Homo sapiens: one gene and its partner. The protein of the gene in region 2 purifies or fractionates together with the protein of the main gene of each other region. This does not show direct contact. Each region holds a gene or a part of one and is shown on either strand. Other genes may lie near its edges.

Region 1 (3,500 bases), on a different chromosome or scaffold from region 2:
CTTTGAATGAATTGGGCCTTTTGCCAACCTTTTCTCACACTAACAGTATCCCAAGAGTGGTAATGGGTGGGCATGAATGAGAGGTTCTAGGTTCTTGGTGTGGGTCGCAGAGATCTGTTTTTTCTGTCTCACAACCCGCTTAGGTGAATCTGTCTCTGTCATCAAGCACACTGATCCCGTCCCTGACCCACGAGCTGTCAACCAAGATAAAAAGAACATGCTGTTTTCTGTAAGTACTTTATGAAATGTGTTTTTATTTACAGACATTTCCAAAGCCTAATCAAATGTTATGTTTTTCACTGCCAACCATCACTGGCTATCATTCTAAAGGATAATCACACTTTTCATGGTCAGTCTTAGGTGTCAGAATATGGCAGTAACATAACGTGTGACTTAGATGTCTTTTAATTGGCAAGTTTTGGGGGACCAAAAAATAATGACTAGCTTATACATCTTCAAACTCTTACCTGCAAACATAGTTGAAAAGTAGATTTGTTTGGAAAAGCCTTAGCCAATAAAGGGTATTTTCAAAATGATGTAGATGACAGCTGCTATTTGTATGTGGTTCACAATAAAAAGGTGCGTGTTTAGAGAGAGAGAGAAAGCAAACATGGCAAACCATTAATAATGGTGAGTCTAGGTGCAAAGTATATGAATGTTCATTTTACTATTTCACTTTTTCTATTGATGTGAAAAATTCTTTGAATAGTGAGGAAATGATTTTAAGTTGGGGACATTTGTGGGTTTGTATGAGAACCTGACTACTACCCATAGTAAGTAAATAGAGGTACCCTGAAAATAGTGAAGCCATGTCCTTCTCTTATAACACTAGGAATTAAAGTGGCATGGGAGAGACTGCTCACATTTGATTTCTTTGGTTTTTGGACCCTGTCACATGAGTAGGGGTTGTCAAGATAGCCCATGGGGCTAGTTGCCGTTTCTATTACAGTGAGAAAAGTAGGGGCCTTGAGTTGTTGGAGCCAGAAGTGGAGAATGCTTAGAGTTGAACTATATGAGTTTGAAAAATTGGGAACACAGAGGGGTTAAGAGCACTGCTTGAAGATGGTCTGCAAGCCGGGCTCAAATAGAAATCTAGGTGGGTCAGTACAGAGCTGCCTGACATAAGTAAGTAGCACATGGAGCATTGCTTGTTGTCACAGTTGTATGGCTGGTTGCTTGAACAGTAGCCAGTGGAAGACCTAGTAGAATGTGTAGAGAATCTGGGTGCCCTAGTCAAAAACCAGCGTCGGTATTTAAGTTGGGATGTGGTATTCATCTTGTGACCAGTTCTCTACTTCTGTCCTAGGGTACAAACATTGCTGCTGGGAAAGCTATGGGAGTGGTGGTAGCAACTGGAGTTAACACCGAAATTGGCAAGATCCGGGATGAAATGGTGGCAACAGAACAGGAGAGAACACCCCTTCAGCAAAAACTAGATGAATTTGGGGAACAGCTTTCCAAAGTCATCTCCCTTATTTGCATTGCAGTCTGGATCATAAATATTGGGCACTTCAATGACCCGGTTCATGGAGGGTCCTGGATCAGAGGTGCTATTTACTACTTTAAAATTGCAGTGGCCCTGGCTGTAGCAGCCATTCCTGAAGGTCTGCCTGCAGTCATCACCACCTGCCTGGCTCTTGGAACTCGCAGAATGGCAAAGAAAAATGCCATTGTTCGAAGCCTCCCGTCTGTGGAAACCCTTGGTTGTACTTCTGTTATCTGCTCAGACAAGACTGGTACACTTACAACAAACCAGATGTCAGTCTGCAGGGTAAGAGGAGTAATTTAGAATATTCCGTGTCGTGGTTCTTTGTTCATCCTACCAATATGCCTTCATGCCATCAAAACTTTTGATTTGTAATTTCATACATTTCTGTGGGCTGTATGTATAGCCTGAGCTTAATTTCTAATATTTGAGAGGATCTAATCATTTAATTCCTAAAACTTTCACAAAATACAGGATATCTGTATGGCTGATATACTTGTATTAGATGTAAGAGAATTAGAGAAATTATATTTTCCTTTAATTAAAAAAAAAAAAAGCCTGGGCGCAGTGGCTCACGCCTGTAATCCCAGCACTTTGAGAGGCCGAGGCGGGTGGATCACCTGAGGTCCGAAGTTTGAGACCAACCTGACCAAAATGGTGAAACCCTGTCTCTACCGAAAAGACAAAAATTAGCTGAGTGGTGGCGTGCACCTGTAGTCCCAGCTACTCGAGAGGCTGAGACAGGAGAATTGCTTGAACCTGGGCAGCGGAGGTTGCAGTGAGCCAAGATCACACCACTGCTCTCAATTCTGGGCGACAAGCAAGACTCCATCTCAAAGAAAAGAAAAGAAAAAAGACAAGGTCTCATTCTGTTGCCCAGGCTAGTGTGCAGTGACACAGCTGTGGCTCACTTACAGCCTCAACCTCCCAGGCTCAAGTCCTCCCACCCCAGCCTCACAAGTAGCTGCAACCACAAGTGCATGCCACCATGCCCCACTAGTTTTTTTATTTTTTTTTGTAGAGGCAGGTTCTCACTATGTCACCAGGCTGGTCTTGAATTCCTGGGCTCAAGTGATCCTCCTGCCTTGGCCTCCCAAAGAGCTGGGATTATAAGCATGAACCACCACACTCAGCCTCCTTTCTAATTTTCCTGATCCTCTGTCTCTAGGTGTATGTTAATAGACAAGTTCTAGAGAAAGCTGCTAGTTAACCTCCCTACCTGAAGTCCTAATTGGTTTTTCTATCACATGTTGAATGAAGCGTGCTTTTTCTCAAAAAGTAGATAGTCATCTCTCTGTATTCATTAGAGATTGGTTCCAGGACCTCCCTCAGATACCAAACTCTGCAGATGCTCAAGTCTCTGAAATGAAATGGTTCAGTACTTGCATATAACCTTGTTCATCCTCCAGTATACTTGAAAACATCTCCAGATTACTTACAGTACCTAACGTAATATTATAAATGATATGTAAATAGTTAAACTGTGTTGTTTAGGGATAGTTAACCTGTGTTGTTTAGGGAATAATGACAAGAAAAAAATGTACATGTTCAGTACAGATGCAGTTATTTTTTCCATCTGCTGTTTAGTTGACCGTGGATGTGGAACCCACAGGTACAGAGGGCTGACTAAAATTGCTTTTAACTTGCTTTATTCTGTGTATTCATCATATATATTTTTGTTTGTTTGTTTGTTCTTGTTTTGAGATGGAGTTTCACTCTTGTTGCCCAGGCTGTAGTGCAATGGCCCGATCTCAGCTCACTACAACCTCCGCCTTCTGGGTTCAAGCAATTCTCCTGCTTCAGCCTCCCAAGTAGCTGGGATTACAGGCATGCGCCCCCACGCCCGGCTAATTTTTTGTATTTTTAGTAGAGATAGGGTTTCTCCATGTTGGTCAGGCTGGTCTCGAACTCGCGACCTCAAGTGATCCACCCGCTTTTGAAAGCCTCCCAAAGTGCTGGGATTATAGGCGTGAGCCCCCGCGCCCGGCCATCCTATATTTTTTGACCATCATTT
Region 2 (5,612 bases):
TGTTCCATTTTATATTTTGCAGACAAGGAAACTGAAGCACAGAGATGTTAAGTACATGAGGTAACCCAAGGTCATAAGAGCCAGAGGCAGGATTTGATTTCAGGAAGTCTAATTCCAGATGTTTTGCATACAGAAAATGTACCATACTCTTCCCCACAGAATAACTGTAATCAGTTTTAGGGAGCTCACAGGCACCCCTTCAAGCATACCTAGACTTGTCTGGTGGGTCCATGGGCCCTAGAACAGCAGGGCTGAAGGCTACGTATCCTGGGACTTTTCCCCATCCAGACATGTGGACAATGGGATGAATGATGCTGAGGGAGTGCTGGGAGCAGGACATGGTGAGGACCAAGTCTATGCGAGCTGAGCAAAATACTCGAGCTGAGCAAAATACTCAGGCTGAGCCAAATACTCAGGCCGAAAAGGAGGGCAAGAATGCCCTAAATATAGAGTTCTTCAAATTTGGGGGTAAATAATATGCATTTATTTTTATTAATGTATAATAATAATTACTCATTTTTATGAATTTAATGCATTTATTTCATTAATAATAGCCCTTGTCTGGTGGACAGTACAATTCATTTTTAAGGAAGTGCCAACTGATAAAAAACACTGGTGAGAGGGTTGGAGAGAAGGACTCTGTTTTTAGCATTATCCAGGAAGCACCCAAATCCAGCAACTCCAATCACGTGTATGGGGGCAAAAAAGAGTTAACGTAGCAGGCCTGATGCTGCTATCCCTGTAAAGGCCTGCTATCAACCAGTAAGGCTGGCCCTTAGCTAATATCCCAGAACTTGGAATCTGGGGGTGTTCATACCATTTCCTAACTGAGAAGGGTGGTTTACTGTGCCTAACCTGTTTGCACAGACAACATGGTTTATGCTGAACATGAGCTTTTCTTTTGTGAGGATGGAATTTTGGTGTATGCTGAGCGGAGGGTAGCTAGATGACTAACCCCCAGTAGAGAACCGTGGACTTGGGTCAGGCACAGTGGCTCACACCTGTAATCCCAGTACTTTGGGAGGGTCTTGCTCTGCTGCCCAGGCTGGAGTGCAGTGGCACTATCATGGCTCACTGTAGCCTTGAACTCCTGGGATCAAGTGATTATGCCATCTCAGCCTCCTCAGTAGCTTCTGGGTCTATAGGAACATGCCACCACACCTGGCCAATTTTTGTATTTTTGGTAGAGATAGAGTTTTACCATGTTGCCCATTCTGGGAAAATATTTTTTTTTTAAAGGAATTGCAGCCATTAGAAGGCACAGCTGTTTCTAATTCTAGCTGCACAATCAATGAATCATGATCAACTAGGTATCACACTAAATTATATCATCTGACATAAATCTACCATTCAATTTGAATTAAGTAAATGAAGCAAATATATATTTCCCTACATCACTTTTAGAAGAAAAAGTTCCATTTCTCCTTAATGTAGATCTCTGTAAGGATTTTCTTACTAGATATTATAAAAGGATATATATTTTCCCCTTGAACACATTATTTTCTAGAAGGAAGGCAGAATAGATTAAAGTGCAATTAACTTGGGAATAAGATATTCTGGTTAATTTTAACATTGGGGGCAACTGAGAATTAAGCAGAAAATCTTTTACTTTTCTTTAAAAATCTTTCCAAAATACATTAGTTACTTTCCTTGCCTGCAGTAATTGCGTGAAGTAAATACAAATAAGTTTTGGTATTTCAGACTCTGAGGGAGGCTTGCCCCCATCTGAATCTCAGCAGTGACTGTGCAGTGAAATATGTACCAACCAGGACACATTCTGGAAATCTTGACTAGCTGTCCAAGCACTTTGCCTCTTTCTCCTTCCTACATGTGAAGTGAAGGAAAGAAACCCCAGTTGGACAGTGAATTCCAATTTATCAAGTTTTGCATTGCTAAAGTTTCCAATATTTCCCCAAATAAAAACAGACAACAGGCTGGGCGCGGTGGTTCACGCCTGTAATCCCAGTACTTCGGGAGGCCAAGGCTGGCGGATCCTGAGTCAGGAGATCGAGACCATCCTGGGCAACATGGTGAAACAGCGTCTCTATTAAAATACAAAAATAATTAGCTGGGTGTGGTGGCACGCACATGTAGCCCCAGCTGCTCGAGAGGCTGAGGCAGGGGAATCACTTGAACCCGGGAGGCGGAGGTTGCAGTGAGCCAAGATCGCGCCACTGCACTCCAGCCTGGTGACAGAGCAAGGCTCTGTCTCAAAACAAAAAACAAAAAACAGACAACATAAATTGAGGCCATAAATTTAAGGCAGAAGAAAATGGTCTCTACAACTTTCTCAACCCCAGTTATATTCATGTGTTGTCCTAGACCAGTTTCCTCAAATCCAAAGCCTATGATCTGTAAGAAATCCTAAATTACTGCTGTTCGTATTGTTATCACTTTTAGCTGAAGCCTCTGTTCACCTCTCTGCTCTGGAAGTATTCAACCTTTCTTGGAACAAGTGTGTTGGTGGCAACTTGAAGCTGCTTCTGGAAACACTAAAGCTTTCCATGTCTCTTCAAGTGCTGAGGCTGAGCAGCTGTTCCCTGGTGACAGAGGATGTGGCTCTCCTGGGTGTGTATCTACTTGTTCCCAAGCGGTCTTGGCAAACAGAGCAGTGGGTGCGGCCCCTGCAAAGCACCAGGTGGGGAGGTGGGGGAGGTACCAGACCTGGGGTGAAGCCCTCTGTGCAGATTCCCTTCTCACCAACATCTGCCGAGAGGTCTAATTAAAATGAGCGAAGGCAATTCTAAAACCACATGACAGTGGAAGGCATTTCCTAAAAGGATATGGATATAGATAGGTGGGGAGGTTCCTGAAAGGCAAACAGCTCTGTTCCACACCTCCGCGGTCCGTGAGTGTTCCCACTTCAGTCATCTACATCTCACCCATCCACATGGTTCCAGCACTATTGCTTAACTTTTCCTTTAAATTGACTCTTTAATTTAAATGCTTTTATTTAAACAGGAAACTGATTATCACTGTAACTGAAATACAGGTATCACTTCTCACAGATACTAGACTGCTGATGGCTTTGATTAGAGGCTCCTCTCTATTAGAAAAAGATGAGAGGGTTAAAGGCATACTGTAGTAACAATCTGACCCTTTTTCCATGTCAGTCTAGAAAGATGGAAAGATAATTGAATAAGGAATAACTTTTGCACTGTGGGATTGAGGCTACCCAAATATTCCCTAAAATCATTTTATGTGTCTGGGCACGGTGGCTCACGCCTATAATCCCAACGCTTTGGGAGGCCGAGGCTGGCGGATCACTTGAGGTCAGGAGTTCAAGACCAGCCTGACCAACATGAAGAAACCCCATCTCTACTAAAAATACAAAATTAGCAGGACATGGTGGCACATGCCTGTAATCCCAGCTACTCGGGAGGCTGAGGCAGGAGAATCACTTGAACCTGGGCGGCCGAGGTTGCAGTGAGCTGAGATCGTGCCACTGCACTCCAGCCTGGGCAGCAGGGGCGAAACTCCTTCTCAAAAAACAAAACAAAACAAAATAAAAAACTCATTCTATGTTTCCACTTTCCCATTATAAAACAATGAATCAGAGAGTACTCTCTCTGGCTCCCATCTAGCCTTGTCCCCACACTCCAATCACTATTCAGCCGGAATTCCAAAGCAATGAGCGCGCCTCCCAATGAAGGGCCAGAACAGTCACTCCAGGTAGTTGTATCTGTGTTCTCAGTGTATATATTAGTCAGTTTTGCTATGACACGGCACATGGGCCTAAAAATCATGTGTTATGCAAGAATTATTCAGTAATAACCACAGGACTTACGGTTGGAAGCACCGCACTCAAACACTTCATCAGTGGCATATTTTAAAAAACAGAAGCTATGAAAAATAGCAATACAGTTTTACATATTAAATAGTTAAGAAATGAGCAAATATTACATTTTCCCGAGAAAGACCTGAAGTTTGTAGAAGTGGCCTGTCCACACTTCCATTGGTGGAAAGAGGGTGTGTGGAGAGATGAGGGTTGTTGTCCTCATGAGGTGTGTGCATGTCTGCATTTTCTTTCTTTTTTTTTTTAGACAGAGTTTCACTCTGTCACCCAGGCTGGAATGAAGTAGCATGATCTTGGCTCACTGCAACCTCCGCCTGCCATGTTCAACAGATTCTCCTGCCTCAGCCTCCTGAGTAGCTGGGATTAGAGGCATGCCACCACGCCTGGCTAATTTTTGTATTTTTGGTAGAGACGGGGTTTCGCCCTGTTGGCCAGGCTGGTCTCAAACACCTGACCTCAGGTGATCCACCCGCCTAGGCTTCCCAAAATGCTGGGATTACAGGCGTGAGCCACCGTGCCCAGGCTGTTTATTTCTATATGCAGCTCAATTCAGCTGGGGACAGTTTTATATGTTCACCTAGTGTTTCCTGTGGACAAATTGTGTGCATAATGCAAACAAGAAATTTGCATTATACTCAGATTGTTTCCTGACATTTCAATCTCATTGAAATAAACTTGTGTTTTCAAAACAAGTGTTATAGCAAAAATGATTGTAATTAGAAGATGGGGACAAAACATTGTGATTTTAATTCGCATTTCCCTAATGACCAATGATGTCAAACATCTTTTTATGTGTGTATTTTCATTTCTTAGCTCCTTTGGTGAAATGTCTGTTCTAAATCTTTTGCCTGATTTAAAAAATTGGATTGTTTGTTTTCTTATTGATGAGTTTGGAGAGTTTTTTAGATTTTTCTGAATACAAGTAAGTCCTTTATCAGAAATATAATTTGCTATTATTTTCTCTGGGTCTGTCCCACTGGCTTTTTCATTCTCTTGATAGTGTTTTTTTGCAGATCAAAGCTTTCAGTTTTGATAAAGATTTATCAATTTGTTAATTTGATGAATAGAGTTTTTTTGTGTTGCATCTTAGAGCGTTTTGCAAATCTAAGTTCTCAAAGATTTTTTCCATATTTTTGTCTTAAAGCTTTGTATTTGCATTTTATATTTTGACCTATTACCTATTTTGAGTTAATTTTTATATAAGGTATGAGGTATGGGTAGAGGTTAATATTTTTGCATATTACTGTCCAATTATTTGAGTGCCATTAACTGAAAAGACTATCCATTCTCCATTGATTTGCCTTTATATTTTTGTGAAAAATCAATTGGCCATATTTGTGATGGCCTACTTCTGGTCTCTCAGTTCTGTTCTATTGATCTCTGTGTCTCTTATTTTACCAATATCACGCTGTCTTGATTGCTGAAACTTTATAGTAAGTCTTGAAATGAAGTAGTATAAGTATTCTTTGTTTCTTTTTCAAAATTGTTTTGGTTATTCTAGTTACTTAGCATTTCCATTTAAAGCTAGCATCAGATTGTCAATATCTATTTTAAAAATCCATCTGGAAATTTTATTGGGATTACATTGAATTTATAGATCAATTCAGGGAGAAATGACATCTTAACAATATTGAGTATTCCAATCCATGAACACAGTCTATCTCTGTATTTAAGTACTCTTTGATTTCTTTCACTGGTGTTTTCTAGTTTTTATATTTTGTTAAATTTATATCTGAGTGTTTAATTTTTGTTCTCTTATAAAAGATACTGTTTAATTTTAGATTCCCAATGTTACGTGGATATATAATTGATTTTT

Evidence for each region. The genes of interacting proteins can lie anywhere in the genome.
Region 1: the proteins of LRRC31 (region 2) and ATP2A2 purify together in Homo sapiens (affinity purification with mass spectrometry, with the first as the bait; one large-scale study listed by BioGRID). This does not show direct contact.

The regions. Positions count from the first base shown.
Region 1 is NC_000012.12:110,326,247-110,329,746, forward strand, and holds part of ATP2A2 (sarcoplasmic/endoplasmic reticulum calcium ATPase 2), read left to right. Parts: intron 1-143; coding exon 144-229; intron 230-1,306; coding exon 1,307-1,771; intron 1,772-3,500.
Region 2 is NC_000003.12:169,845,076-169,850,687, reverse strand, and holds part of LRRC31 (leucine-rich repeat-containing protein 31), read left to right. Parts: intron 1-2,400; coding exon 2,401-2,568; intron 2,569-5,612.